2 linked regions of the Homo sapiens genome follow. The protein of the gene in region 1 purifies or fractionates together with the protein of each later gene. This does not show direct contact. Each region holds a gene or a part of one and is shown on either strand. Other genes may lie near its edges.

Evidence for each region.
Region 2: the proteins of ARHGEF35 (region 1) and CCZ1B purify together in Homo sapiens (co-immunoprecipitation; one large-scale study listed by IntAct). This does not show direct contact.

What each region holds. Positions count from the first base shown.
Region 1 is NC_000007.14:144,189,173-144,192,992, reverse strand, and holds part of ARHGEF35 (rho guanine nucleotide exchange factor 35), read left to right. Parts: intron 1-3,820.
Region 2 is NC_000007.14:6,812,622-6,816,441, reverse strand, and holds part of CCZ1B (vacuolar fusion protein CCZ1 homolog B), read left to right. Parts: intron 1-1,596; coding exon 1,597-1,678; intron 1,679-3,404; coding exon 3,405-3,466; intron 3,467-3,820.

The sequences.
Region 1 (3,820 bases):
TTTAGCTTTGTCATGCCTGATTGCAACGGGATCACTGAGATAGGATCAAGTATAGGGAACGTGGGGTATGTTCTCCCTTTGCGGTAACTGGTGGCTGAGCAGGTGACCACTGATATTTCCAAATGAAAAAAGACAGTTAGAAACGGTGTCAATGGGCTTGCAGAGGCAGGCATGCACTGTGCCACTAGATTGGAACAGAAAATGTCCAGGTAGCACATGGTATTTATAGATATACCCTAGATATGGCAGAAACACACTTTTATTTAGAGGCTACTTGTTTTGAAGACGTGATGGTGTATATGGAGGAGAGGGCCTGAACCATGCAGATGTAAGTGAGGAGAGACTACAGGTTTAGTCCCATGGTCTCCTTAGGCCAAGTTTCAGAAAGTGTCTTAAAGTAAGCAAGTATATTATTCGATGTGTGGTTGAGAGAACAGGGCCACATCACAGAATCACCCATAGGGATTATAGTATTTTGTACTTAAGGGCTAGACATAGGGAGCCAATCGCATATGGTGTCAGTTAACTGGAAAAGGACATAAAAGTCCTTCTGCCTGTGTACAATTATGTCAGACATATCTCTTTGCCCCATATAGATGGTATCTCTGTCTCTGGGATGGCCAGAATCTTGTCACATACTACTCTGCAGTGTGCTAGGGACCTGCCTGTTTGGTTATGTCAGGCTCTATTGCAAGAGTTTGTAAGGATGGCTCAGTGTGTGTGTGTGTGTGTGTGTGTGTGTGTGTGTGTGTGTGTGTGTGTACACACAGTGGCTAAGCAGGACAGTATTCTGAGCAGGTGAGTTTTCAGTTTAAGCCTGGACCAGACAAGAAAGGTGCACGGTCAGGTGCAGCATTGGGTCCATAGAATTCTGGGGTCTTCTCTGGACTGATGGCCTGCCAGCTTTCTTTCAGTAGGACCTCTAAGTGCTTACAGGAGACTTAAATCAAGCGACTTTGCTTCAGGTTTGCCCATACCATTTGCTTAGGAGATTTGAGCAAGGGTCTAGGGTCTTTGACCTTTAGTTTCTTCATCTGTAAATTGAGCAGTTTCTGTGTGTCTCTGAAGGTCCTTCCGGCTTTATGAATCCTGTGTTTCTCTCTTACACTTATTCTCTGTCTCTCAGGTCAACAGTATTTACCACAGCCACCATTTCTATGACCCTTAAAGATAGCAGTGTACATTTTTATGTTACCTTATTTAATCTTTACTAGAACTGTGAAGGAATCCTTTTATCTCCTTTTTAAAGATAAGAAAATGGATGTTCAAATAAATTTAATGGTTTCTACAATTGTCTTAAAACCAGCAAAGATACCAGAGAGGCACAACCAAACACTGATCCACACTCTTCTAACTCTATATTCTTCCGTCATTCATTCATACAATACATCTTTGTTGAGGGCCAACTAGGCTTCAGGCAGAGGGGGTTATATGGCAGTGTTTGTCCCTTCATGGTGCTCATAATCTAGCCTGGAAAATAGACATTAAATATGACATGACAAGTGCAAGGTGTGTTTGAGGAGAAGCAAAGGATTCTCTGTTGCAAAAGAGGATTCCAGGCAGAGGAGCAGTGTCTACAAAGGCCTACAGGTGAGAGACACAGAGAGAAGTGAGCTAAAGACACTGAAAGCCAGTGGGGGGGGGGGGGATGGGGGCAGGGACAGATGGTGACAGGTGAATAGGCTGCTAGAGAAGAAGGCAGAGCCAGGTTGTGCAGGGAGTATAACCCATGCTGAAGATTTAGATTTCATCTCAAGAGCATTCAGAGGCTGCTGAAGAATCTAAGCTAGAACTGGTGCTTTTGAAGCTCACTTAGGTGCTGTATGGAGAAAGGACTGGAATAACGTGAAATGGGTGGACGCCAGTGCCCAAGCTGTGGCCGGGTGCAGTGGCCCGGGCGAGACGGTAGCAGCATGCACCAGTGGAGAGGGATGGGATAGAAGTGGACAGTCTTAAGGGATATTTAGCAGACGAGGTCAATAGCACATGGTGATTGATTAGATATGGGGAATCTGGGCCAGGAGGGAAACAAGAATTTTATTTTATTTTAATTAATTAATTAATTTATTTAGAGACAGAGTCTCACTCTGTCACCTAGGCTGGAATGCAGTGATGTGATCTTGGCTCACTGCAGCCTCTGCCTCCTGGGCTCAAGGGATCCTCCCATCTCAGCCCCCAAGTAGCTGGAACTACAGGCACGTGCCACCATGCTCCACTAATTTTTGTATTTTTTGTGGAGACAGGGTTTCACCAGGTTGTCCAGGCTGGTCTCAAACTCCTAGATTCAAGCAGTCAACCTGCCTCAGCCTCCCAGAGTGTCAGGATTATATATATAAAGTGCATTGGGAAACTCAGTTTTTCATCTGTAAAATGGGCAGAATAATGGTACCCATCTTATACGATGACTCTTAGATGTATGGCACATACATATTTAAAGAAGCATTTCATTATTTTTAATGACATGTATGCAGGAAAACCTTAGTGTTTCAGAATGAAAAATAAGAAAAATTAATTTGTTGTGTATAGAGCTCTAAATGTTTAAAGTTCTGTGTAAACTGTTAATCATGATTTTAGGAAAAGGTGGGCATATTCCATTGAAGTAAAAGGATCACATTTTATTCTGACCTGAATTTTATTCTTTATGTGAAAAATATTTATTAAACACTGAGTATAGGCCACTATTAGGCTAAGTATGGATAATTCAGCAAGTCATAGTTCTTAATCTCATAAATTTTACTATCTATTGGTTGCAATAGAGGGTAACTCAAAATACACACATCATTATATAATTATAATTGTATAAATGCTACAAAGGAAAAGTAAAGTGAATTATAGTTGGTAAGTGCTACAAAGAGGGGTACAATTTAACCTACTTAAAAGATCAGGGGAGGCCAGGTGCAGTGGCTTACGCCTATAATCACAACACTTCGGGAGGCCGAGGCGGGTGGATAACGAGGTCAGGAGATTGAGACCATCCTGGCCAAAATGGTGAAACCCCGTCTCTACTAAAAGTACAAAAATTAGCTGGGTGTGGTGGCACACACCTATAGTCCCAGCTACTCGGGAGGCTGAGGCAGGAGAATCGCTTGAACCCGGAGGTGGAGGTTGCAATGACCCAAGATTGCACCACGGCACTCCAGCCTGGGTGACAGAGCAAGACTCCATCTCAAAAAAAAAAAAAAAAAAGAAAGAAAAAAAAAGACTGGAGGAAACTGAAGGGGTAAAACCAGGAAAATGTAATACCACAAGTAACAAGAGAGTATTTCTAACCTCAGTACTGTCAAATACTGACAAGAACCACCCAAAGTGAAGATCCATAAGGTCTTCTTTGGAATTAACAACATGTTGATTGTAGGGAATATTGGCAGAATGCCGCTATCAAAGCTCAGTTGGAGGCAGGTGGGATGTGAGAGTATGAAGACAGCAGATAAGAGCAACTCCTTCTAGTCATTTGAAAGATGAGAAGAATGTGGGAATGCTTCCATACCCCAGGGGTTGTTCAGCAGGGATGTTGAAGGTATGAGTGCACAGTGTTCCTGGGGAAGCAGGCAAGAAATGACAGAGCATGGAAAGGAGGGATACGTCTTTTCCTGACTGAGGGCGGAAGATAGAAAGAGTGGAAATACAGGTTGCTTTGGATCACAAGAAATTGAGGTGAGAGAAACCCAGTTCCATCAGTTTCTATTTTCTTTGCAAAATAGGAGATGAGGTGTTCTGCTGGAAGTGAGAAGAAAGGCAGGAAGGTCGAAATCAAAAGACAGGAAGGTCAAAAGAATTAATGAGAAGAGTTCATATGGATACTGAGGCCAAGGGGAGAGTA
Region 2 (3,820 bases), about 140 Mb from region 1:
TGGTGTGATCTCAGCTCACTTCAGCCTGCGCCTCCCAGGTTCAAGCGATTCTCATGCCTCAGTCTCCCAAGTAGCTGGGATTAGAGGTGTGTGCTATCAGGCCTAGCAAATTTTTATATTTTTTAGTAGAGACGGTGTTTTGCCATGTTGGCCAGGCTGGTGTTGAATCCCTGACCTTAGGTGATCTGCTCACCTTGGCTTCCCCAAGTGCTGGGATTACAGGTGTGAGCTTCCGCGCCCGACCACCTTCACGGTATTTCAGTGATCTTGAATAGAAAACGCCCAGATCCAGCCTCATTGTCTGTCTCCTTTTAAAAAACCGGTTCCAGAGTCTGATACCTGCTAGTTTCTCTGTGCTTTTTCCATGTGCTGCTCCTTCCTGCCTCATTTCAGATCAGATGGTTTGCCTGAAAGCTTGTTTTTCTCTTCCTCCTCTTTCTTCACCGAAGATCCGGAGAATTAAAATCCATGTACATTTCTGAGACCTAGGATCACGTTCCCTGTCTACAGCATACCCATATTTTCCCAGGGGACTAGGGGAGAGAATGTGGCATTACCATATAACCCAGGAAGCTAAGAGACATCTGCTCCTAAAATGAAACAGTGTGGCTTTGGAGGTTTCCTGCATAATCCTACACGGAATTCAACCAGCGAGTCCAATCCCTTGTGACTTTTTTTTTCATCTCAAATGGCATGTAAAATACAGGACTGTAGGAGTAGCCTTTTGCAGGTCAGGATAAAGTTCCAGTGCCTGGGCTGAAGTTTAACTCTTTACCTTCCTTAACTTCGCGGTCAGGTGGTGAGCCTCTTGATATAATGTTAAAGAAAAAAGCACCAGTTGTCCCAGCTACTCAGGAGGCTGAGGTGGGAGGTTTGCTTGAGCCTGGGAATCGGTGGCTGCAGCAAGCTGTGGTCACACCACTGTAATCCAGCCTGGGCGACAGACGAGACTCATCTCTTGAAAAATGAAAAAAGATGAGACCAGGCACAGTGGCTCACATATGTAATCCCAGCACTTTAGGAGGCTGAGGCGGGAGCACTGCTTGAGTCCAGGAGTTCGAAACCAGCCTGGCAACGTAGCAAGACCCCCATCTCTACATAAAATACAAAAATTAGCTGATGGTGGCGCATGCCTGTAGTCCCAGCTAGTCTGGAGGCTGAGATGGGAGGACCGCTTGAGCCCTGGAGGCCAAGGCTGCAGTGAGCCATGATCGCACCACTGCTTCCAGCCTGGGTGACAGAGCAAGACCTTGTCTCAAAAAAAAAAAAGAAAAAAAAATTTTTTTTTAATAAAAAATGAGCTTTATCCAGGGCTTCAAATTCTTTGGAAAAGTTTGACAAAGTATACCACGTAAATTCAGATTTACCTCAATGCTAAGAATTATGTTTAGGAAAAAGGAAACTCATTTTGATCTCAGGTAGAAAAATAGATTGCTTTGAGTTTTAAGTAGCTTTAAACTTTAAAAAGTTAGAATTTATTCTGTGTTACTAAAAATGACTTGAAAAAAAAATTTTTGTTTAATGAGCTTTATCACAGCAGTGGAAAGACAGAAGACAGTTCGAAACGTTTAACCCAGTGCTTTTCTGTTGTTGCAGGAGTGGATTAGAACAAGATGACATGAGAATTTTATACAAATACCTTACCACCTCCCTTTTCCCAAGGCACATCGAACCTGAGGTATGATGGGTACCATAGCTGCACACAATTACATGCAGGGGCACAGAGAGGGCAGGTGGAGTGAGATGGTGGTGCATGGGGGTGTTTCTGATCGTTTCTGATGTATGTTTTGTCTTAGTGTGTTATTTATGTCACTGTATATCAATTAGCACAGAAAACCACATGCAGCTCTCCTCCAGTATGTGACATTCAGATGTGATACAGAAAGCATCGTTTTGTGTGTCTGTGTGTTGGTTTTTTTGTGTGTGTTTTTGTTTGTTTGGTTTTTGAGACGGAGTCTCGAACTTTCACCTGGGATGGAGAGGTTCAAGCAATTCTCCTTGCCTCGGCCTCCCTAGTACCTGGGATTACAGGCGCCCGCCACCACGCCCAGCTAATTTTTTTGTATTTTTAGTAGAGACAGGTTTCACTATGTTGGCCAGGCTGGTCTCGAACTCCTGACCTTGTGATCTGCCCACCTTGGCCTCCCAAAGTGCTAGGATTACAGGCGTGAGCCACTGCCCCCAGTCCACAAAGCATGTTTTTAAGAGGAGTGAGTCATTGAGTAGAGGAAAATTGGATTTTATTTTACTTTTAATTTATGTATTTTATTTTATTTATTTATTTATTTATTTATTGGGACAGAGTTTCGTTCTTTTCGCCCAGGCTGGAGTGCAGTGGTTTAATCTCAGCTCACTGCAACTTCCGCTTCCTGGATTCAAACAATTCTCCGGCCTCAGGCTCCCAAGTAGCTGAGATTATAGGCACCTGCCACCATGCCTGGCTAATTTTTATATTTTTAGTAGAGATGGAGTTTCACCATGTTGGCCAGGCTGGTCTCGAACTCCTGACCTCAGGTGATTGACCTGCGTCAGCTTCCCAAAGTGCTGGGATTACAGGCGTGAGCTACTGCTCCTGGCCAAAAAAATTGGATTTTAGGTTGGGTTCTAGAAACCTTTAAAATGCCAGTGATCTTTAAAACAATCAACCTGTGTAGTATTTTCCTCTATCAACAGGAGACCTAATTTTCAGTAGATGTTTTAGTGCCTACCTGGCTTTCCACTCTAGTACTTAATTTCCTGGTTTCCTGCAGAGAACTTTTAAATGATATCACTGTGTTCTCCCCAAAGTATTTTCAGAGCTTAACACACAAAAATCATTTTGGCTCAGTTGAACTCACTCTCTTCGCTTGTTCATTCCCTCCCTCTTGTCCTCCCGCTCTCCAATATTTTTTTTAAGAGATGAGGTCTCACTTTGTTGACTCGGATGGTCTCAAACTCTTGGGCTCAAGCGGTCCTGTCACCTCAGCCTCCCAAGTAGCTGAGACTACAGGTGTGTGCCACCACACCTGGTTAATTTTTTGTAGAGATGGGATCTCGTCATGTTGCCCAGGCTGTTCTCAAACTCCTGGGCTCAAGTAATCTGCCTGCCTTGGCCTCCCAAAGTGCTGGGATTATAGGCGTGAGCCACCTCACCTGGCCAAAAATTTAAAAACTAGCCAGGTTTGGTCACACATGCCTCTATCAGGAGGCTGAGGTGGGAGGGTTGCTTGAGCCTAGGAGTTCAAGGCTATAGTGAGCCATGATCATGCTGCATGCATTCCAGCCTGGGCAACAGAACAAGATCCTGTCTCTAAAAGAAAAAGACAAATGGCATGGAACCAATTAGTAGATAATGCTGTTTTTCAAAGCTTGGAAAATAAATAAAAAGTCTGATAAGTCATTCTCAACATTAAATGTATTTGCAGTTAGCAGGAAGGGATTCTCCAATAAGAGCAGAAATGCCAGGAAATCTTCAACACTATGGAAGGTAGGACTTCTGTTCTTTGATTTATGATACTGGGTTTTCTTTCTTTTTTGACTCAGAGTCTGGCTCTGTTACCCAGGCTGGAGAGCAGTGGCAAGATCTCCGCTCACTGCAACCTCTGCCTCCCCGGGCTCAAGTGATTCTCATGCCTCAGCCTCCCAAGTAGCTGGAACTACAGGCATGAGCCACTATGCCTGGCTAATTCATTTTGTATTTTTAGTAGAAACAGGGTTTCATCATGTTGGCCAGGCTGGTCTTGAACTCCTGACTTCAAGTGATCCACCTGCCTTGGCCTCCCAAAGTGCTGGGATTACAGGTGTGATCCACCATGCCTGGCCTATTATCTTTTTGGTAAAG